Linked DNA regions of Homo sapiens. The protein of the gene in region 1 interacts with the protein of each later gene in a pairwise test. Each region holds a gene or a part of one and is shown on either strand. Other genes may lie near its edges.

The links.
Region 2: the proteins of RBAK (region 1) and SLC25A10 interact in binary tests that used the Homo sapiens proteins (3 or more experiments, as listed by UniProt).
Region 3: the proteins of RBAK (region 1) and CRACR2A interact in binary tests that used the Homo sapiens proteins (3 or more experiments, as listed by UniProt).

What each region holds. Positions count from the first base shown.
Region 1 is NC_000007.14:5,062,843-5,069,869, reverse strand, and holds the end of RBAK (RB-associated KRAB zinc finger protein), read right to left. Parts: intron 6,176-7,027; coding exon 4,269-6,175; 3' UTR 383-4,268; downstream 1-382. UniProt on the Homo sapiens protein: May repress E2F-dependent transcription. May promote AR-dependent transcription.
Region 2 is NC_000017.11:81,708,453-81,715,296, reverse strand, and holds the start of SLC25A10 (mitochondrial dicarboxylate carrier), read right to left. Parts: upstream 3,014-6,844; 5' UTR 2,871-3,013; coding exon 2,778-2,870; intron 2,029-2,777; exon of another isoform or gene 1,791-2,028; intron 345-1,790; coding exon 225-344; intron 1-224. UniProt on the Homo sapiens protein: Catalyzes the electroneutral exchange or flux of physiologically important metabolites such as dicarboxylates (malonate, malate, succinate), inorganic sulfur-containing anions, and phosphate, across mitochondrial inner membrane.
Region 3 is NC_000012.12:3,743,097-3,750,123, forward strand, and holds part of CRACR2A (EF-hand calcium-binding domain-containing protein 4B), read right to left. Parts: intron 1-7,027.

The DNA.
Region 1 (7,027 bases):
GACTCTAAAAATAAGAGAAAGAAAAACAAAAAACAAATGCCTTCCCACCAAAAAAAAAAAAAAAAAAAAAAAAGAGGCACACAGTCTATGCCATCCAATGTCACGTCCTTCTTGCTGTGCTTTTACAAGCTCAGCCAGCCCTCACCCAAAGTGTTTTTTTTTTTTCAATGGTGCAAAGTTTTGCTGACCTGTTTCTTTCACTCACTTACATCTGGGCTGTTAACTGTGTATCTGAGATTTGCTCAAATATTTAGCTGAATACTTTTAAAATAATTTTCCATCAAATCCAACTCAGCATTATATTCATTCACTGCCAAGAAAGGTCACCCCTACAGTAAAAGTTAAGATGAATCCCGAATTCAGAAATGCAAAAAACAATTTGTTTAGGGAAATATGAAATGTTACACATTAGCTTCTTTATTGAAGAGGCAGCTCAGACCTATTTATATATGCAAAAGTATAGGATGACAAAGTATGTAATGATTCTTTAACCTTCTCAAATATTTCACTTAAAATATACATTATGCTAAGCTTTAAGGACAGCGTAGGAAATCTTAGTAGTTGCCATCAAAATTACTATAAATATGTATTTCCTGCACAGAATTATGCAAAATCTGCCATTTAATTCCTGTTGTGCAGCATATTCATACACATCTAGAAAAATATGATTAGAGTGATGAGCGACACAAATGTTAGCCATTTGTGATTTTAGAAAACTTTTATGGAAAGTTTAACACACATGCAGAAAAATACACATATCTTAAGTGCACAGCTCAAAACACACTCAAATACTTAGCACCTAGGTTTAGAAACAGATTATTCCCAGCACCAGATAAATGCCCCCTTTCAGCCTTGGCCAAGGCTAACTGCTACCCTAATTTTAAACCACGTATACAAGTTTTGCCCGTCTTTATAATTTATATAGAAGGAATCATACAGCATGTTGGCTTTTGTGTCTGGAGTCTTTCATTCAGCAAGGTTTGTTAAATTCAGCTGCGTTATTACACGGACTTCTAGTTCATTCATGCTCACTGTTTTACAGTATTCCATGGACATATGCCACTTCTTTATTCATTCCATTGCACATGTGCCTTAAGATAGTTCTGTTTTGTGCAGTTTTAGGCTATAAATATTCTAGTGCATGTCCTTTGGTGGACAGACACATGCATTTTTGCTGGGTTTGGGTAAAACAGTATACATATGCTTGGCTTTTAGTGCCAGCTTTCAAAATGGTTTTATCGATGAGCAATTCCACCAGTAGTGTACAGTTCCTCTTGCTTACATCCTTGCCAAAACGTGATGCTTTTTCATGCTTTTCATTTTAACCATTTCCATGGATGGGTAGCAGTGCTACATGTTTTAAGTTTGCATTTCCCTGATTACTAATAAAGCTAACACATCTTTTCATGCTTATTGGCCGTCTGGATATCCTCTAAAGTGAGTGGATATCCTCTAAAGTCTTTTGCCTTTTCCAGTTTCCCCCTTGTTGATTTGTAGGTGCTCTTTACATATTCGAGATCAGGGACCAGAAAACTATGAGTGCAGACCAAATCCAGACTGCCACCTGGGATTGTGAATGGTTTTACTGGGAAGCAGCCATGCTCATTTTTTTTTTAATGCATGGTGTATGGATGCTTTCACACAATAGCAAAGATGAGCAGTTGTGACAAAGCTGAAAATTTTCACCATCTGGTGCCTTGCTTTATAAAGTTTGCCAACACTTCTGCTATACTCGGTGCTGTTGTCACATACATGAACTGCAAATATCTTCTCCTCCCCATGATTTCCTGTTCATTTTCTTACTGGTGGTCTTTCTGATAAATAGAAGTTCTCAAATTTAATATTAAGTTCTAATTTTATGGGTTAATGCTTTTTGGGTCTCAATAAACCTTTGCTTACTCCAAGATTACAAACTGTCCTAAGATTTCTTTGTAAAGCTTTCACATTTCATATTCAGATCTGCAATCCACCTCCAAATAACTTTTTATCAAATTACAAAATTTTATTGGCAAAGTACATTTACTGGAAAGAACACCCTTTCCCCCACTACACTTCAATGTCACCTTTCTCAAAACTCAGGTGATGGTATACACGTGGGTCTACTTTTGAATCTGTATGCTGTTCCACTAGTCAGTTTTTTCATCCTTGTGCCAAATTAACACCTTCATTATTTCTATGGCTTTATAACAGGTCTTGATATTTAGAAATTTCAATCCTCTCTGTCCATTCTACAGGATAGCCTTGACAATTATTCGACTTTTGAATATGCATATGAATTCTAGAATTAGCTTGTTAATTTACATTAAAGAACTTGCTAGGATTTTAAGGTTGCAATGAATTTAGGAAAAAGCAATAGTTTTGAGATTGTCCTGGAATCCTATCCCTCTCCTCCTTTGTAATTTTATTTTCTGGATACAGTTCTTCAAAGCATATTAACTCATTTTCTCCCTCTAGGCACTTGAGGGATCTTTGAAGTGGCATTGCTTTTCAAAATTTCATTTTCCATGTTTTTTGCTGGTATATCATAAAATGCTTTTTGCATAACTTTTATGCAGGGAACTTACCAAATTTACTCATGGCATCTGCAAATAGAGATTTATATTCTTTTTCGTTTTTAAAGTTTTACTTCTTTTCTAATCTCTATGCCTTTTGTTTCTCTTCCTTGCATTAGTTTTCTGGTTAGGTCCTTCTGAACAATGCCGAATAAAATCATTGACAGCAGATATCCTTGTCTTATTTTTATAATCTTAGGAGAAATGTTCACTATTTCATCATTAAGCATATTGTTTGTTGTAGTTTAAGTCTCTTTATGCAGTTAAGTAAGTCCCTTTCAATCCATCATTTGCTAAGATCATAAACGAACATTAATTGTACCACAAGAATGTTCTGCATGCCAGATTACTTTTCTACAGGTGGTGTATAATAGCAACTGACTTGTGAATATTAAGCCACCTTTGCATTCCTGGAACACAATCTATTTGATTACCATTTTACCTTTTCCCAGAACAAGTCCATCTTTGTTTTGTTTACCCAGTATCAGGTCATATGACCACTATAAAACAAGTTACTGGCAAAGAGAATGAAATCATTATTATTTTGACTAATCAGGATTCCCCTGTGTCATGTGAAGAAGTGGTAGGTACCTAAACTGTTCCAGCAAGAAATGGAGCGAGGACATTAAGTTAATTGATCAAAAAATATCTGCTAGAAACTTGAATCAATTTGTTCTGAAATACTGGGAAAAAGGAGAATGCACAAAACAATGACACTGTATTTGTACCAAACAGAAGTTTGTGAATAAAATTTCTAAATTACAAAATATTGGCACTAGGCACACTCAAACCTATGGGTTAAAAAACAAGGGTGGTGTGAGAGCTGGGGATATTTTAGAGTATGGGCAGTATGCTTGTTCTCTTTCACTGAAATAGACTTAAACAATTCCAAATTATGTATGTATAGTTTATCAAAATAGTCTTTTAGAAAATCTTATCTTACTCAGATGCAGTTGAAAACTTTACAAAACGACTGCCTCCTGTACTAATGAGGCATTTGTTAAAAACCCATTTGTAAATTCCTCTAAATAGAAAACTAGGTATTTTACCATTTTATACCTATTAAATATTATCTCACCAACAATATGTCCTGTCTTAATACATTTTGCCATCCTAATACTCAAATAAGAAAACTGCCTCTTCACAAGTCATCCAATTCCAAACTTGCATAGAATTACCATTAGATTGCATTTTTAAGACATGATAAAAAACGGCCATATACTTATTTAATGCTACTGTCCTCATGATCAACTCCTGACAATTTAAAAACTTCATTTTATACAATGAAGATTTATTCAGAGCTCATAGCCTCTGAGATCTTTCCTGTAAACACCTGATTTTCCATTAGAAATATGGCTTTTACAACAAATTTCCAAGACAATATATTTTCCACATTCACCATATTGACAGATTTTGCCTTTGTATGATTCCCTGATATGTAAATACAATTTGAATCCAAAATAAATATTAAATATTTATAAAACTTCACTCCTATATAAATTAGTGTCCGATGAGTCGTATGATCTTGCTGAAGGCTTTGCTTCTTGTTACATTCTTCGGGATTCTTCTCTGTGAAAATTTGGATTAAAATGACTCTAATGCCTAAATGCTTCTCACCGTTCAGGAACACGAACTCTCAGATAAACGCTTTGACTTCCTATTGGATTCCCCATATTCATTATATTCAGAGAGTTTTCTAAAAATTGAGATCTGACTTCAGAGATTTTCCACATCAAGTACGTTCATATTTCCTCTTCTATGAATTCTCTGATGGCTATTGAAGGCTGATCTGTGGTGGAATTTTTTCCCACACTCGTTACATTCATAGGGTTTCTCTCCTGAATGAGTTCTATAGTGTACAGTGAGGTATGACTTCTGAGAAAAGACTTTCCCACATTCATTACATTCATAGGGTTTCTCTCCTGAATGGCTTCTGTAGTGGACAGTGAGGTTTGACATCCGAGAGAAGACTTTTCCACATTTACTACATTCATAGGGTTTCTCTCCTGAATGAATTCGATGATGTATAGTGAGATATGATTTCTGAGAGAAGAATTTTCCACATTCGTAACATTCATAGGGTTTCTCGCCTGTGTGTACTCTTTGATGTCTGAAGAGGGATGAATTATGGGAAAAGGTTTTCCCACATTCGCTACATCCATAAGGTTTCTCTTCTGAATGACTTCTATAATGTTCAGTATAGTATGACAACTCATTGAATAACTTTCCACATACATTACATTCATAGGATTTCTCCCCTTTTGGAAGTGGCTGGTGCCCATCGAAGGCTGAATTTACAAGGAAGGTTTTCCCACATTCATTACATTCATAGGGTTTCTCTTCTAAATGAGCTGTATGATGGTCGGTGAGATACAACTGAGAGAACTTTCCACATTCACTACATTCATGGGATTTCTCTTCTGTGTGTACTTTCCGATGTCTAATGAAGGCTGAATTTAAATTGAAGGTTTTGCCACATTCATTACATTCATAGGGTTTCTCTTCTAAATGACTTCTATAATGTATAGTGAGGTATGACACCCGAGAAAAGAATTTCCCACACTCGCTACACTGATAGGGCTTCTCTCCCGTGTGTGTTCTCTGATGTGTAATCAGAGTAGACTTTCGGTAGTAGGATTTCCCACATTCATTACATTTATAAAGCTTCTCTCCCGTGTGAGTTCTCTGATGGTCACTGAGAGCAGACTTGCGGGAGAAGGATTTCCCACATTCGTTACATGGATAGGGCCTCTCTCCTGAATGATTCCTCTGGTGCAGGGTGAGATGTGTCTTTTGGCAGAAGGTTTTCCCACATTCGCTACATTCGTAGGGTTTCTCTCCTGAATGAGTTCTTAGGTGTTGAGTGAGGTGTAACTTCTGACAAAAGGTTTTCCCACATTCATTACATTTATAGGGCTTCTCCTCTAAGTGTGATCTCCGATGTACAGTGAGGGTTCCCTTTTGGCTGAAGGATTTCCCACATACATTACATTCATAAGGTTTCTCTCCTGTGTGAGCCCTCTGGTGGATGATGAATTTTGACTTTTTACAGAAGGATTTTCCACATTCACTGCATTCAAAGGGCTTCATTTCCATTTGTGATCTCTGATATGCATTAAAATTTGACATCTGTATGAAGTCTGGTCCAGAATCATTCCACTCATAGGGCTTCTCCCCTATGTAAGCTCTCTTATGAGCAATAAAAACAGCCTCATTGTCTAAGGCTTCCATGCATTCATTATATTCAAAGGGTTTCTCCAAAATACTAATTTTCTGAAGAATATTTTCTTCATTGTGAGAATAGGTATCCCCATTTTGATTAAATTCACACATTTTCTCTCCATGATATGTTTTCCCACATTCATTACACTCATCAGGTTTTGTCCTAGCATAGCTTCCATCACTACTAATTAATTGCGAAATAGATTCTAAATTCTTTCCACATGAGACACAATTATGAGCTATTATGCTTGAAGGAACAAGGCTTGTTTCCATGTAAATTTGACTAAATGTATTCTCTTTCTCTTCAGTCAGGGTTTTGCTATTGATACAAGCAGCTTGCCTTGAATGTTTGTCTTCGTTTTCTTGGATTCTCTCTATCAGGTCATCAACTCTCCAGGCTTCTAAAAAGGAAAAATAGTAAACAAACTTTGTAAATCTGAACACACTAGCTATGGAAAGGTACTGGTATTCAAGAGCCCCCATTGTGGGGTTGACTCTGGCTTTAGAGCCAATCTCCATAAATAAAAATAATTACAAATGCATAGTTCTCTTTTTCCTTTGGTTTGGAATACAAAACAGAAACACACACACACACACACACACACACACACACACACAGTGAAAGAATTAAGGTGAGACAGTGGTAGAAAATAGAAGAGTAAATTCATATTGAATACAGGTAACTTTGTTGCTTTACAAATATTATGTTTCAAACTTTGGTAGAAAAGGTGAAATAAAACCAAATGATGAGCAGAGAAGTGGTTGAAAGTACGTCAGATCCAGGCAAAGATGGGAGGACTTAGATCAAATGTGTTGTGGGAAGTCAGGGACCCCAAACGGAGGGACTGGCTGAAGCCATGGCAGAAGAACATGGATTGTTAAGATTTCATGGACATTTATTAGTTCCCCAAATTAATACTTTCATAATTTCTTATGCCTGTCTTTACTGCAATCTCTGAACATAAATTGTGAAGATTTCACGGACACTTATCACTTCCCCAATCAATACCCTTGTGATTTCCTATGCCTGTCTTTACTTTAATCTCTTAATCAGCTGAGGAGGATGTATGTCGCCTCAGGACCCTGTGATAATTGCGTTAACTGCACAAATTGTAGAGCACGTGTGTTTGAACAATATGAAATCTGGGCACCTTGAAAAAAGAACAGGAAAACAGCAATGTTTAGGGAACAAGAGAGATAACCTTAAACTCTGACTGCCGGTGAGCCGGGTGGAACAGAGCCATATTTCTCTT
Region 2 (6,844 bases), on another chromosome or scaffold:
TTCTCACTCCCTGGGCCTCAGCTTCCCCACCAGTAAGTGGCGGTCTCAGGCCCAGCCCTGCAAACTGGGTGGGTGCCCATGGGAGGCGCACCCTGGGGTCACCAGCTCTCGGCCTGGTGGGTCCTTCCTTGCACAAAGTCTTGAAAAGGGGACGGAAGTAGCTTGGATGCCACTGCAGGACTCAGCCCCAGTCTGGGAGCCCAAGGCTGGCACACACCACGCACCTGTCTGCACAGCGAGGCGCTCAGGCCGCTGTAGAGTGCCAGGATGCCGTCGGTACGCACCACCCGCAGCGCCATGCCCGTCATGCGCAGCTTCACCTCCTGCTGCGTCTGCAGATGCACCTGCGGGAGTGAGTGCTCTCAGACCCCACAGCGACCCCGAGGGATCGGTGCCAGGTTCATCCAGAGAGGGGGAAACTGAGGCAGGAGGCAGTGATAAGGCCTCCCACGGCCCTGCCCGGGGACTCCACACCCGTGCCTGGAACCAGCTCACACCACTGCTTTCCAACAGCAACCACACCAGTGGACATGGAGCTGAGAGTGTCCGCGAGCCCCGCGAGCGCCCCGCGTACCACCTGAGTATTGGCTGCACTGGCCGCAGGGGCTCGCCATTCTCCTTCTGCAGATGAGGAAACTGAGGCATGGAGAGGTAACGCACCCGCTGGTGCCATCAGGATTTGGGCCCAGCGAGGAGACCCCAGAGCCCTACTTTTTATCCACCACACCACGTCTCAAGAGGGACAAACGTTTATGGCCGCTCAGAAACGGCGAGGGAGCCTGCAGGACCATGGGAGACTGAGGAGGTAGCCATAGAAGGCCTTGAAAGGCAGCAGGAGCTCAGCAGCAGACAAGGGGACGGTGTGGCTGGCGGCAGGGCATAGCGGCCTCCTCTGCAAAGCACCTAGGAGCTGTGGGCAGGCACTCGGGGGCTGTCAGCCCGACAACCTCCCATTCTGTTGGCCTCCACCACTCACAGGACCTCTGCCTCCTCGCCTGGCCAGCTGAGAGCTCCCGGCAGTAGGGGGATTGGCCAGGGCCAGACAGGAAGGCCAGCACCTGGCCCAGGATCCCAGCTCCTGGGTCCCACCCCCAGCACTGACCCCAAAGAAGTCCTTCCGCCGCTCAGTGTGACCTGCACGTGCGCGGCCCCGTAACGCACGCCCAGGGGTCGGCAAAGATGGGTGGGGACAGAGAGGGGCCTCCCATTGTGCGAGCCCAGCAGAACAGAGGGACTGGGCCACACAGGTAGCAGCCCCCGTCCCGGCCAGATGCGACGGTAGGGACTGTAGGGACATGGGACAAAGTGCTCAAGAAGCTTTAAAAGATCTTTCCGACGGCCAGGCAGAGAGGCCTGGTGAGCAGTCCTCAGGAGCACACCCTGACCACAGCGCCATATGCTGCCAGCAGCTGGCTCCTCCCGCCCTCCCAGGCCAGAGGGCAGTCCCGCCTCCCCCAGGCGGTGTTCTGCAGCCAGAGAGCGCCTGGTTGGGGAGGGCCAAGGGGCAGTGGGGCTCAGACCCCGGACAAGGGACAGCAGCACGCAGGTCCCGCCTTCAACACCCAGATGAACGTGGGAGAGGCCCTGGGGGAGGGGCACCTGTGCGGCGCCCAGGAGGAAAGGAAGAGCCCGATGCCAAGGAGGGGCTCGCTTCTTCTGCCCATGCCAGCGCCTTCCTGTCGCTGTGGCTGCATCTCACTGGCCGTGGCTGCCTGTGGCCTGGGAGCTCTGAAGGCCTCTCCCAGGACCAGTGAGGTCTCAGGTGCCCCAAGACGCCCACATCTGCTCACCTGGCCTTCACGCAGCGACCAGCATTGTTGCTCATTAGTAAAGCCAGTCCCCTCAAAGGCTGCTGGAATACAAGTCCCCTGGACAGGCTGCTAAAATAAAGGTCCCCTAGACAGGCGGCTGCCCAGTGACCACAGCCAGGTTCACAGGGCAGGGCCTGCTGGGCAGACTGTGCAAAGCCTCAGGCCCTTTCTTCTTTGTTCTCTGTGGCAAGACACGGTCAGAAAACAACGCCCCTTGGCTGTCCCTGGGAAACAAGGAGAGCTCTGTCTTATTTTGCCCCATAAGCATTAAAAAAAAAAAAAAAGTAAAAAAACGGTGGCTGCTTCTCGTGCTGAGAAACGCCCGCTTTCATAGGGCCAGGACCACACGCGTGCAGGGTCTCCTGGCATCTCTCCTGGGGGTGTGCTGGTCCTAACATCGCTTCCAGTGCCCACGCAGCTCTCCGAAGGAAGCAGCCCAAAGCCGGGGCATCGGGTCACCCCACTTGCCCAGGGACACGTCCGGCGGTGTGCTAAACACCCCTGGGTGGGGGGCGGCTTGGCCCACACCCTGGGTATGCTACAGCCAGCACGTCTCTAGATGCCAACACCTGTGCACCTCACAGAACTCCCCCCACAACTTCTAACTAGGCGGAAGGAGCGTTCTTGAATGTATGGGGGTGGGTGGCTCAGAGAGGCCAAGTGACTCCCCCAAGGTCACCAGGTATTAAAGTGTAGAGCTGGGGCTGGATCGCCACCTGCCGAGAACTGGGAAGCCGGCTGGGAAGCTGGGGAGCGCGGCTGCGCCCTGCAGGCCTCGAGCTCGGCGGCCACCACTGGAGGGCCACCCGGGATCGGCCATCCGGGCGTCGGGGGCCTCCTCGCGCTCTCCAGGAGGGAGCCCCGGGCGCGGCGATCCCCGGGTGCGTGGGGCCGGGCTGCTGCCTTTGCAGGCGTCTCGGCGGCGCCAGGGTCCCATCCGCCCCGCGTCCCGGGCCCCGGCCTCACCTTGAGCAGGTCCAGCGGGTGCGTGCAGCAGGCGGCCCCGCAGGAGGCCAGCCCCCCGAAGTACCAGCGCGACACGCGCGCCTCGGCTGCCATGGCCCAGGAGAGCCCAATCCCGGCCCGACCACAACCCGACCCCGGCCCTACCCCGGCGTGTACCGGCCGCAGCGCCCCGCGCCCCGCGCCCCGCGCCCGGTTCAAAGCGCCGCCCGCGCGCCCGCACCCCGCACAGCCAATGCGCGCGCGCGCCCCGGGGGCGGGACCGCTAGGCCACGCCCCCTGCGATTGAGGCGGGCCCGGCGCCTTAAAGCGGCCGCGAGGGGCGCCGAGCGCGGTGGGCCCGGCCTGCGGACGCGCGGGTGCTCCGGGGCTGCTGCGTGGCCGCCTCCACTCCCCCGGGCCCCTGGCGTCCTCCCTTCTCCAGGCCGGAGCGCAGGGCCGAAGGCCACCGCCCGGGGACCGGCCCCAGGCACATGGGACCGCGGCGGGCGCCCTGCCAATCCCCAGGAGGCCCGGCCCCTGGCCCTGAACCTGCACCCGGTGGCCACCCCGCCGCGCAGGCGCTGGCTCGTGAGTCACCTGGCGGGGGCCACGTGTGTGCGGCGTGGGCCCTGCGTCCACAGGTCTGCAACCCCTGCCCCCACCGAGGGCTCAGCCCCGGCCCAGCTGCAAGAGAACAGAAAACCGGCTTCGGGAGCCGGGCGCGGTGGCTCACGCCTGTAATCCCAGTTACTCAGGAAGCTGAGGCAGTAGAATCGCTTGAATCCGGGAGGCAGAGGTTGCAGTGAGCTGAGATCGCGCCACTGCACTCCAGCCTGGGCGACAGAGCGAGACTCCATCTCAAAAAAAAAAAAAAAAAAAAGAAAAAGAAAAGAAAAAAAGAACCTGCTTGGGGCCAGACTGAATGAAAACTGGGAAAAAAGGCGGTTAGGAAGGACTTGCCTCTCCCTTCCCACACACAGATGCCCGGAAGCTCCTGCTCAGTTCTGGTCTGGCTCTGACCAGACGCCCCAGGCAACCACCCTGGAAGTGGGGCCCCGGGGTGGATTCTGGGGCTCTTGTTCCCAGGAGATGCCTGCCTGCATCTGGGCCCCTGCTTGGATTCCACTTCCCTGCGAAGAACAAGGAGGCGCTGGTGTGTTCCTGGCCCAGGTGCACCTGCTGGGCAAAATGAAATTTAAGTCCCCAAGGCTGCTTTAGGGCTGGGCCACAGGGATGAAGACCTGCAGCTCCAGCTTGGTCACTGCTGTCCGGCCTCCCCCACCCTCCAGGGCGAAGGGTGAGGAGCACCGGAAAAACAACTCGTGGTCCCTGGAACCCCTCAAGCACCAGAATGTGTCCAGCCCTGCCTCTGCGCATCCAGCGATGCCCTGGCTGTGTCGGAAGCGCAAGACGCACACTTAGGATTTTCAGCTTGGCTGTGGGTTTATTGGGCCGTAACCCCAACGTAGGCAGGTAGCCAACTGGAGGAGACTGTTTTCTAGACCCTTAGGTGGCCTCTGACCCCAGAAGTCATCAGCGGAAGATTTGGGCTGGGGAGTGAGCAGCTAACCAGAGGCGGTACCCCTGCCCGGAAGTGTGTCCTGGACCTTGGTTTGGTTGGGTCCCTCAGGTGTTGCCCACACAGACCGTAACTACCTGGCAATCGAGAAGGGTGCCAGATGGACACTGGGGGTGAAAACACAGCCACGCCTGGTGGGGAAGCGGGTGGAGGTGCTCAGGAGGCAACCAGGAGAGTGCAGTGCAGCACTGCCCGCACCAAGCCTGGGCTGGGGCTCAACAGGAAGCGTGGAGATGGCGCAAATGCACCGCAGGGACTCAGAGGGATCACGCTGGGCTTAAAAGGCCCAGAGCAAACAGACTCAACCGTTAGGAAGCAGGGGAAGTGGCCCGATCTTAACGGAAATTTCCCAGCAAGAGGACAGGCTTCCTTGTCCGGGGCCATCCAGGCTCACACCTGACTGAGTCCCGCAGACTTGGCTGTGCCCACAGCGCCTGTCTCACTCAGTGTAAACCGAGATGAGTTGCATCCATCGGCTCCCGATTACCAAGAATCAAGAGGCGATGGATGGAAACCTTGGGGGAAGCAGGGCCTGGAGGGCCAGTGTCCCCTGAGTCTGTGAGACACTCCAGGAAGGAGGGGGGCGGGCCTGGGCTGCAACCTGTCCCTCCGAAGGCCACCTGCAAGACAGGGCTGAAACTGGCTGCTGGCAGAGACCCCCCAACCCACAGAACACTGGCTCCCTGCTGAAGGAAGAACTGCTCCAAAGCAGAAAGAGCAGGGCCCAGCGGGTAAGGAGCAGGAACTGAAGAGCTTTACAAAGAACAAAAAAGGCTGGGCAGGGCAGCTCTCACCTGTAATCCCAGCACTTTGGGAGGCCAAGGTAGGAGGATCTCTTGAGGCCAGGCGTTTCAGACCAGCCTGCGCAACACAGTGAGACCACATCTCTAAAAAAAATCAAAAGATTAGCCAGGCATGATGGCACGTGCCTATAGTCCCAGCTACCTGGGAGGATGAGGTAGGACGATTGCTTGTGCACAGGAGGCTGAGGCTGCAGTGAGCCTTGATCAGGCCACTGCACTCCAGCTCGGGTGACAGAGTGAGATCGTGTCTATATTAAAAAATAAAAATAGGCCAGGTGTGGTGGCTCACACCTGTAATCCCAGCACTTTGGGAGGCCGAGGTGGGTGATCACCTGGGGTTAGGAATTCGAGACCATCCTGGCCAACGTGGTGAAACGCTGCCTCTACTAAAAATACAAAAATTAGCTGGGTGTTGTGGCGGGCGCCTGTAATCCCAGCTACTAGGGAGGCTAAGGCAGGAGAATCGCTTGAACCTGGGAGGTGGAGGTTGCAGTGAGCCAAGATCGTGCCATTGCACTCCAGCCTGGGTGACAAGAGCAAAACTCACTCAAAAAAAATTAAAATTAAAAAAGATAAAAATAAGGTTCAAGACCAGCCTGGCCAACAGGGTGAAACCCTATCTCTACTAATAAAAATACAAAATTAGCTGGGCGTGGTGGTGCATGCCTGTAATTCCAGCTTCTTGGGAAGGTGAGGCAGGACAATTGCTTGAACCCGGCAGGTGGAGGCTGCAGTGAGCCAAGACTGCACCACCAGCCCAGGTGACAAACTGACACCGTTTCATAAAAATAAATACATAAATAAGTAAATAAAACATTAAAAAAAATAGAACAAAAGTGCAAGGAGCTGTAGGGGACTGAAGTTTGTGAACTCCGTGAGCTAGAGATGCTGGGAGAGCAGTCAGAAGGCGAGGAATCCTGAAAACAGGAAATGCATCCAGGGCCAGAGGCTTTTTCAAATGATGAATCTAGAACTGCAGGTCGGGGACTCACAAGGATCCCTGATGGATTCTCAAACGGATCATAAGTTATGTCGGTAGGCCCAAGGGGGTGGTTGGGGCAGACTGAGCAAGCTCACGGGACAGGGCTCCCCGTCCAGCCTCCGACTGCGGCCTGGCATCCACCGCAGTGTCCTGCTGCTTGGCATCCACAGGTTATTTTGGGGGTCCCCCGGCAGGGAGGAAAGGGCCTCTCGGTGGCTCCTGCGAGTGGCCTGGCAGACGCCTGAGCCAGGGTAGACAGCGAGGAGTCGCGGGCAGAGATTTTGCTGGTCTATCTGGCCTGGGTGCAGCCTGGATGAAGACAGCATGTCTGTCTGACCTCAAGCAGGGCTCGTCCCTGAGCTCAGATGTTCGCTGCCTTCCAGAGGGGAAAGGCAGTTGGGGTCAGCAGGGCACCAGGCAGAATGCACCCAGCTCCAGGTGGCAGTGTCACCTCCTGAGGGAAGACCATTAACCCCTCAAAATGGATACCATGGCCAATGGGGACTTCCAGGCTTGGCTTGGGACAGCCTTTCCTGGGGACAGCAGGTTAGTCAGAGAAACTCTACCAGAAGGCCTTGGAAGAGGACCTGGGCCAGGCAGGGTGTACACGCACAGTGAGCCTGAAACTCCCTGCCCCTCCCGCTCCCCCAGGAGTCCCAGCCAGTGGGCAGCTTCCAGACACACGGTGCCCCTTTCTGGTCCCATCCAAGGGATCCTTCCACCA
Region 3 (7,027 bases), on another chromosome or scaffold:
CTAACTGCTATTGAGTACAAATTAGAACTTTTCATTCTATTTCAAACTTCTGTAAATAGGGCTTGTACATTTTTTAAAAATACGTTTAGTTTGCGATGTGTGACTACGTAATGGAAGCTGAGTAACTTTTCTTTTTTCATTGACACTCATTTTACCTGGCAGTTCCTTTTTGTGTCTCTGGTTCCACTTCAAGCTGCAGTTCAATGTACTAAAACTGCATTCCTTAAAACGAAGTACTATATCAGACTTTTAAACTGGCCTTTTCCATCCCTATATCTCTGGATGGCCTGTGCCTGGGGCAGCTCACCTGATACGGCGTCGGCGGCTTCTGCCTCCCATTTTACAGGCGTGTGGAGAGAGCTCTGTTATGAAGCAGACCCTGCAACCCAAGGGGTCGGCCCTTTGTAGGAAGCCAGTCAGGCACAGGGGGATCAACAGCCTGGGGGAGGTGTCCACGGTGCAGGTGTCTATACCGGGACTAGGTGTCTGGTGTGAACCCACACAAGTTGTTGAACCTGTCTGAGCCTCAGTTTCCTCAACTGTAAAAAGGACATGGTAAGACCTATATCAGAAAATGCCTGGCACATGGCAGGCATTTGACAAATTATCTTATTATGAAGCATGCAGCCCACCCAGAAGTTTGTTGAATGCTTTGCTGTTTCCCCAGCTGACTTCATTCCCAGAGTTAAGCCACATCAGAACCCTGTGCCCTAAAGAAAGTTCAACCCAAAAATCTGAGTTCTGAGACACACAGTAGGGGCTTGCAGTCCATGGGGAGGGTAATGACGAGCAATAGGAAATGTGCCAGAGGACACGTCGCAGAAGATGTGTCAGATGCCAGAAAGAATGCTCGCTGGGGAAATAGCAAATACACTCTGTAGTATCTGTGGCCAGGACAACCACAGCCTAGGAACAAACTGTGTCCTGAGTAAATGCAGAATCAAGCTGTGGTGAGATACCAAGAGGGGACAGGAAAGCAAAACAGATCATGACCAAGAACAGGAGCTGAGATGGTGACCAAACCCCTGCTAGCCAGAGAACGTGCACCAATTCTCTGCCTTGGGAGGAATCCACGGTCAAAGCTAAACTCACACTTTCATAGTATGTGTGTAATTAGTTGAAAAGCTTAATTTAACAGTTTGGTAAATTCCATTAGCAGTTTATCTGTGGTATGTAATGAAGCTATTTTTAAGTGAATCCTTTTTGGCTAAAGGCCCCAGTGAAGAATCCTAATGGAACATGGTTCACATAATACAAACCCAGATCCGTGCAGATGCTAGAAACCTTCTCGAGTAGACACTAATGTGCCCAGACAGGGAAGCTGTGCTTGACTCTGTACAATGACACCCCTGTCTAGATGAAGCAGGAAGAATCAGAGAGTCCAGAATCAAGTCCCAGCTCTGAAATTACACTGCCTCGGGTATGTTACTTACATCTGTGGTGCTCACTTTCCTCATCTGGAAAGGGTGGGTGATCATACTACCTTACAGGACCCTGGGGAGAAATATGCAAGGTTCTGTACAAAGTACTTAGCCCACAGGAGGGCAGTCTCACAGAAGTGCTTTTGATTGAAGCAGATAATTTTTTTTTTAAACCCAAACAAACAGAAAGGAATAAGAGAGAAATGGCAGCAGAAAGATTACCCAAGTCGACAGGACATCTGATGGTGAGGCCATTGTGCAGAGAGCGAACTGAGACGGTATCACTGTATGACTTCCTGGAGCCACAGTTAAAACCAAACCTTCTCCAACCCCATCAGTTTGAGAAGAGGAAACAATTCACAATGTGAATATACTTACTGCCACTGCGCAGTATACTTAAAATGGTTAAAATGATACATTTTATGTTATGTATATTTTATCACAATGAAACAGTGAAGATCCAAAAACAAACAAACAAAAAACCCTAAACCTCAACTCTCTGCCCACTGAAGACAGTCCAATAAAAATAACATAAAGAAGAGTTGGATGGCCTTCCCTCTGTGGGATTCTGTAGGGAAGGCTGTGTCCATGCACCCAGATGCCACACCAAAGGCCCTGTGAGTCAAGATCTCCATCCTGTGGATGATCTGTATCCGGGGTGTCTGTTCAATCCAAACTCCCAGAAGACCCGAAAACCAAAAAGCTACCGCAGGCCATGGCACCACTGAAAGATCTAGAGGTTCTTCTGCTGAACAATGTGTTATCCCTGATGGTATCTCCCCAATGGCAATTTCTGACCGTGATTCAGATGACACTACCCACAGAAATGAACTTCCAAGAACTCCTCCTCCCTCAATCCCACCGTGTCCTCCTCTGGGGATGGTGGCGCTGCTGCTGTCTTGCTCACAAAACCTGCCTTGGGAAGAAAGCCCCTAAAATTTCAGCCCTGCTCAGGTTAAGAAATAGTAGCTTTAGGCCAGGTGCAGTGGCTCACACCTGTAATCTCAGCACTTTGGGAGGCCAAGGCAGGCAGATCATTTGAGGTCTGGAGTTTGAGACCATCCTGGCCAAGATGGAGAAACCCCGTCTCTACTAAAAATACAAAAATTAGCCAGGCATGGTGGTGCATGCCTGTAATCCCAGCTACTTGGGAGGCTGAGGCAGGAGAATCGCTTGAACCCAGGAGGTGTAGGTAGGTTGCAGTGAGCCAAGATCATGCCATTGCGCTCCAGCCTGGGCAACAAGAACAAAACTTCGTCTCAAAAAATAAAATAAAATAAAATAAAATAAAATAAAATAAAATAAAATAAAGAAAGAAAAGAGAAGAGAAAAGAAAAAAGAAATAGTATCTTTGACAAACCATCTCCTTCCCTACAGAAAAACAAAACCTGGCTGAAGGCAGGAGGTGTCTCTCTGGCCAGTGTCTCTCATCTCCCTCCCGCTGACCTCCCTGACCCCATTCATGTCTTCAGAAGGGCATGGCCCTGTCGAGGGGGTGAAGGGCTGTTCCTGTGCCTCAGGGCCCTGTGCTGTAAATGCTTCCCAGCCTGGGCTGTACTTCTAGGTGCAGCTCAAATCCTACCTCCTCTCTAAAGCCATGAGAAATATACTTTACTTACTTGCCTATAAACACTAACATCATTGGTTATTTTTCATATCATCTCCTGCTATGAGCTAAATTATGTCCCCCCGACAATTCATATGTTGAAGCCCTAACTCTCAATGTGATGGTATTTGGAGGTGAGGACTTTAGGAGGTGATTAGGTTTAGATGAGGTCATGAGGGTGGGGCCCTCATGATGGGATTAGTGCCCATCATGAAGAGACACCAGAGAGCTCTCTCTCTCTCTCTCTCTCCCCATCTCTCTCTCCTCCCTCTTCCCCACCCTTCCTCCACCCTCCCTCTCCCTTCTTCCTCTCCCATTCTCTCCCTCTCTGTGCCATGTGAGGACACAAAAAGAAAGTGGCTTTCTGCAAGCCAAGGAGAGAACCTTCACCCACCAAACTGGCACCATGATGTTAGACTTCCAGCCTCCAGAACTGTGAGAAAATAAATTTCGGTTGTCTGTGATATTTTGTTCTGTCTGCCAGAACAAAGACATCCCCTCAAAGGGAGTATGCATGCCTACTACAGGGACCACCCCTCTCTTCTTAGACCAGACCCCCTGCAGGACCCTTTGCTGGCACAGCAGGGACTTAGCATGCATGGAAGCTAATTAGGTGAGAGACTCTGCTTCTGCCTCCTGGAGAATTTCAATCCAAGACAAGCACAACAAGTTGTGAAGGACCAACAAGGGGAGGAGTACATCTCAACAAGTTGGTTGAGAAGGACCAACAAGGGGAGGAGTACACCCTTAGCATGGAACTCAACCACAAGCTCTCAAAACAGGTAATGTCACCATGACCCATGGGATCACATGTGCGTGGACCACGTGCTTCCTCACATCCCTTAACTCACCTGACATGGATCAACAGGTAACTCCTGTATTCTCACTTGAATGAAGAGAAGAGAAACTCAGGTTTAGAGGCTAATCCCAAAGACATATGACTGGTTAGAGTAGAACCCAGACTCTGCACTAAGCATTCAGAGGCGGCAGGCTGTGGAACGCTTGAGGACTTGGCCCTAGAGCCAGACTGCCTGGGTTCAAATCCCAGCTCGGCCTCTTATCAGCTGTGTGACCCTGGAAAAGTTACTCAGCCTCTTGAAACAGATGAGGAAGATGGCTTCCTCATCTGTAAAATGGGGAGGATGATCATAACAGTGCCTATTTCATAAAACGGTTACAAAGATGAGTTCATTTATGCCAAACTCTCAGCCATGCCCAGTGTGTTTCTGTGCATCAACCTTGAGGTGCAGTGGAAAGAGAGTCCCTGGAGTTCCGTCTTTGGTCAAGGTGGGGCTGCAGGAAGCTGGCCTCCCTCCCGCATCAGCACCAATCCAACCCTCTATCCCAGTGGGTGAAGGTATGTGGTTATGTGCAGCGGACAATGTGGCAAAGCTGCATCCATTTACCAAGAGAACTCTGATGGACTACAAATCCTGGACCTCAATGCTGAGCAATCTCTAAAGTAAACAAAGTGAAAATAAACCAATCACCCAGGTAATAGAAGATTTTCCTCTTGTCTGCACTGGTAATTGGGTCATGGTAGCCAACCTCCCACGTCCCCTGGTGCTGCTGTGAGTTTAAAAGAGAGTAAAGGAAGCTGTCTGGCCAGAAACACGAGTGCAGGTTCCGGGAGGAGGGCAGCCACACCCGCTGGTTCCAGCTTGTCCTGGTGCACCTGTAGCACGTGTGCTACGTCTCACCCTTCTCACCTTTCCTCTAACTAAGCCCAGAAGGGCACAGAGCTCCACAGGCTCAGGGGTGCACCCAGAAGGGCACAGAGTTCCACAGGCTCAGGGGTACACCCAGAAGGGCACAGAGCTCCACAGGCTCAGGGGTGCACCCAGAAGGGCACAGAGTTCCACAGGCTCAGGGGTACACCCAGAAGGGCACAGAGTTCCACAGGCTCAGGGGTGCACCCAGAAGGGCACAGAGTTCCACAGGCTCAGGGGTACACTACGAGCACAGGACTGGGTGTTAAGCCTATCCAACCTCACTGCTGGGACTTGCTTGGGTAAAACACGGTTTCCACTTTCCCACAAGTTCTCAGGCCCAGCCTCACATTTTTCCACCCCCAGGCAGGGCAGCTCTATTGTGTGAATAAGGGATCTTCAGCACAGATGGGGTGGGGACAGAGGCCCTTGGAATCTGAACCACAGGGGAAGCTTGCCTGCTCCTACCTCCATGCATCTTCTAGAAACACCTGGAGCATCACCCAGAGTCAGACTCCACCCACCATAGAGCCTGCTGCCCCATAAATGCCTCCCTTGGCCAGCCCCATCCAGGATGTGTCAACAAACAGACAAGGGAAGAAAGTGTCCCGCTGGCATTCCGAGAAAGCCAGGGCTGGGAGCCAAAACACACCGACAAGGGGGATGCTCTGTCTCCTGAAGAATCTGTCACAAAAGAAAATTCTATAGCCCTCAAGCTGGAAGAGGCCCTGGAGATAACTTTGTCATCACAGGGTGGCACCCTCTAGTTGCCCCAGGCAGATGAGGTCCTAGAGGAACCCGTCCCTAATATTGAACTTCAAGAGGTCCTTCCTGTATCTAACTCAGCCTTCAGAGAAAGGGCAGAGCAGTTACAAGGCAAGGATGACTGAGAACTCCAACACCTGAGGCCAAGACTCAGCACTGTGTACAAGGTGTGGAGCCTGTAGAGGACAAACCTGACTGAGGGTTGTCCTCCCCCTCACCTCAGCCTGACTGCAAATTTGTTTATGTCATCCGGATGACGTCATGCTAACTTGACCAGTTGGAGCAGCTGTGAGGGAAAACAGACCCCAAAGGTCCCTCTCCTGAGTCCTGTGAGGGGAAGGGGGTGTCTTTGTGTGGATGCTGTTGGTGAGTAGAGAGCCAATGGAGCATAACGCTTACAGTGCAGGCTCTGAAATAGCCAAGCTGCCTGAGTTCAAATCCTGCCTCTACCGTGTATCGGCTGTGTGACCATAGACATGATACTGTGCCTCTCTCTTCCTCAGTTAACTTTTCTATAAAATGGGCATGATGGCAGTGCCTAGCCAATTGGGTTGTAGTGAGGCTTCCATAAGGGAATACATGGACAGCCCTTGGGCCATGCCTGGCACTTTCTTTGCATTGCTCTTGTGAAGGTGACCAGTTTGCCTGGAACATCCTGGCTATGCTTGTGGTCCCAGCATTGCTATGAATATTCCCCCTTTCACTCCCGGCAGTGCCCGAGGTTGGATGATGTATTATAAGAGTGACTCCCTTTGGCTTCTTCATGTCCACCTGGTTATCTCCCTGCTTCATGCTGCCTCTGAGTACTGGGGAGCCAGGTTCCCAAAATATAGGTCCCCAAAGTAGGTTCTGCCCATGCCACTGAGCTGTCTGCTCCACAAACTCAGCTCTTCCTCTTTTCCTTCTTCTCTGCACTTTGTCTCTTCTCCTTCCTTGATCCTTACAGCCATCCTCTCCTTTCCTGCTTCCCTGTCCGTGCCTTAGGATTCTGCTGGTGCACACAGGTACCGTCTGGCTTTATTGGGACTTCCCCCTGACCCTGTACTTGGACGGAACCCTTTATGGCTCTAACTAAACTGTGCCTTATCAAATTTCTCTCAGAGGAAAGGAAGCGATTTGAAAAGGCAAAGAAATGACCAATAGATGGATGAGTGGAACAATGTGCTGGTTTTTGTTGTTGTTGTTGTTGCTGTTTCTTTGTGTGTGTGTGTGTGTGTGTGTGTGTGTGTGTGTGTGTGTGTGTGTTGTGTTGGTAGGAACAAAAAGTGTACCAGTTTGAAATGGTCCATTGAATGCTAGACCTGTCTATAGAACTGTCCCCAGGGCTATTTTTTTTATTTTTTATTTTTATTTTTTGAGACGGAGTATCGCTCTTGTCACTCAGGCTGGAGTGCAATGGCGCAATCTCAGCTCACTGCAAACACCGCCTCCCGGGTTCAACCAATTCTCCTGCTTGGCCTCCTGAATAGCTGGGATTACAGGTGCCTGCCACCAAGCCCAGCTAATTTCTGTATTTTTAGTAGAAA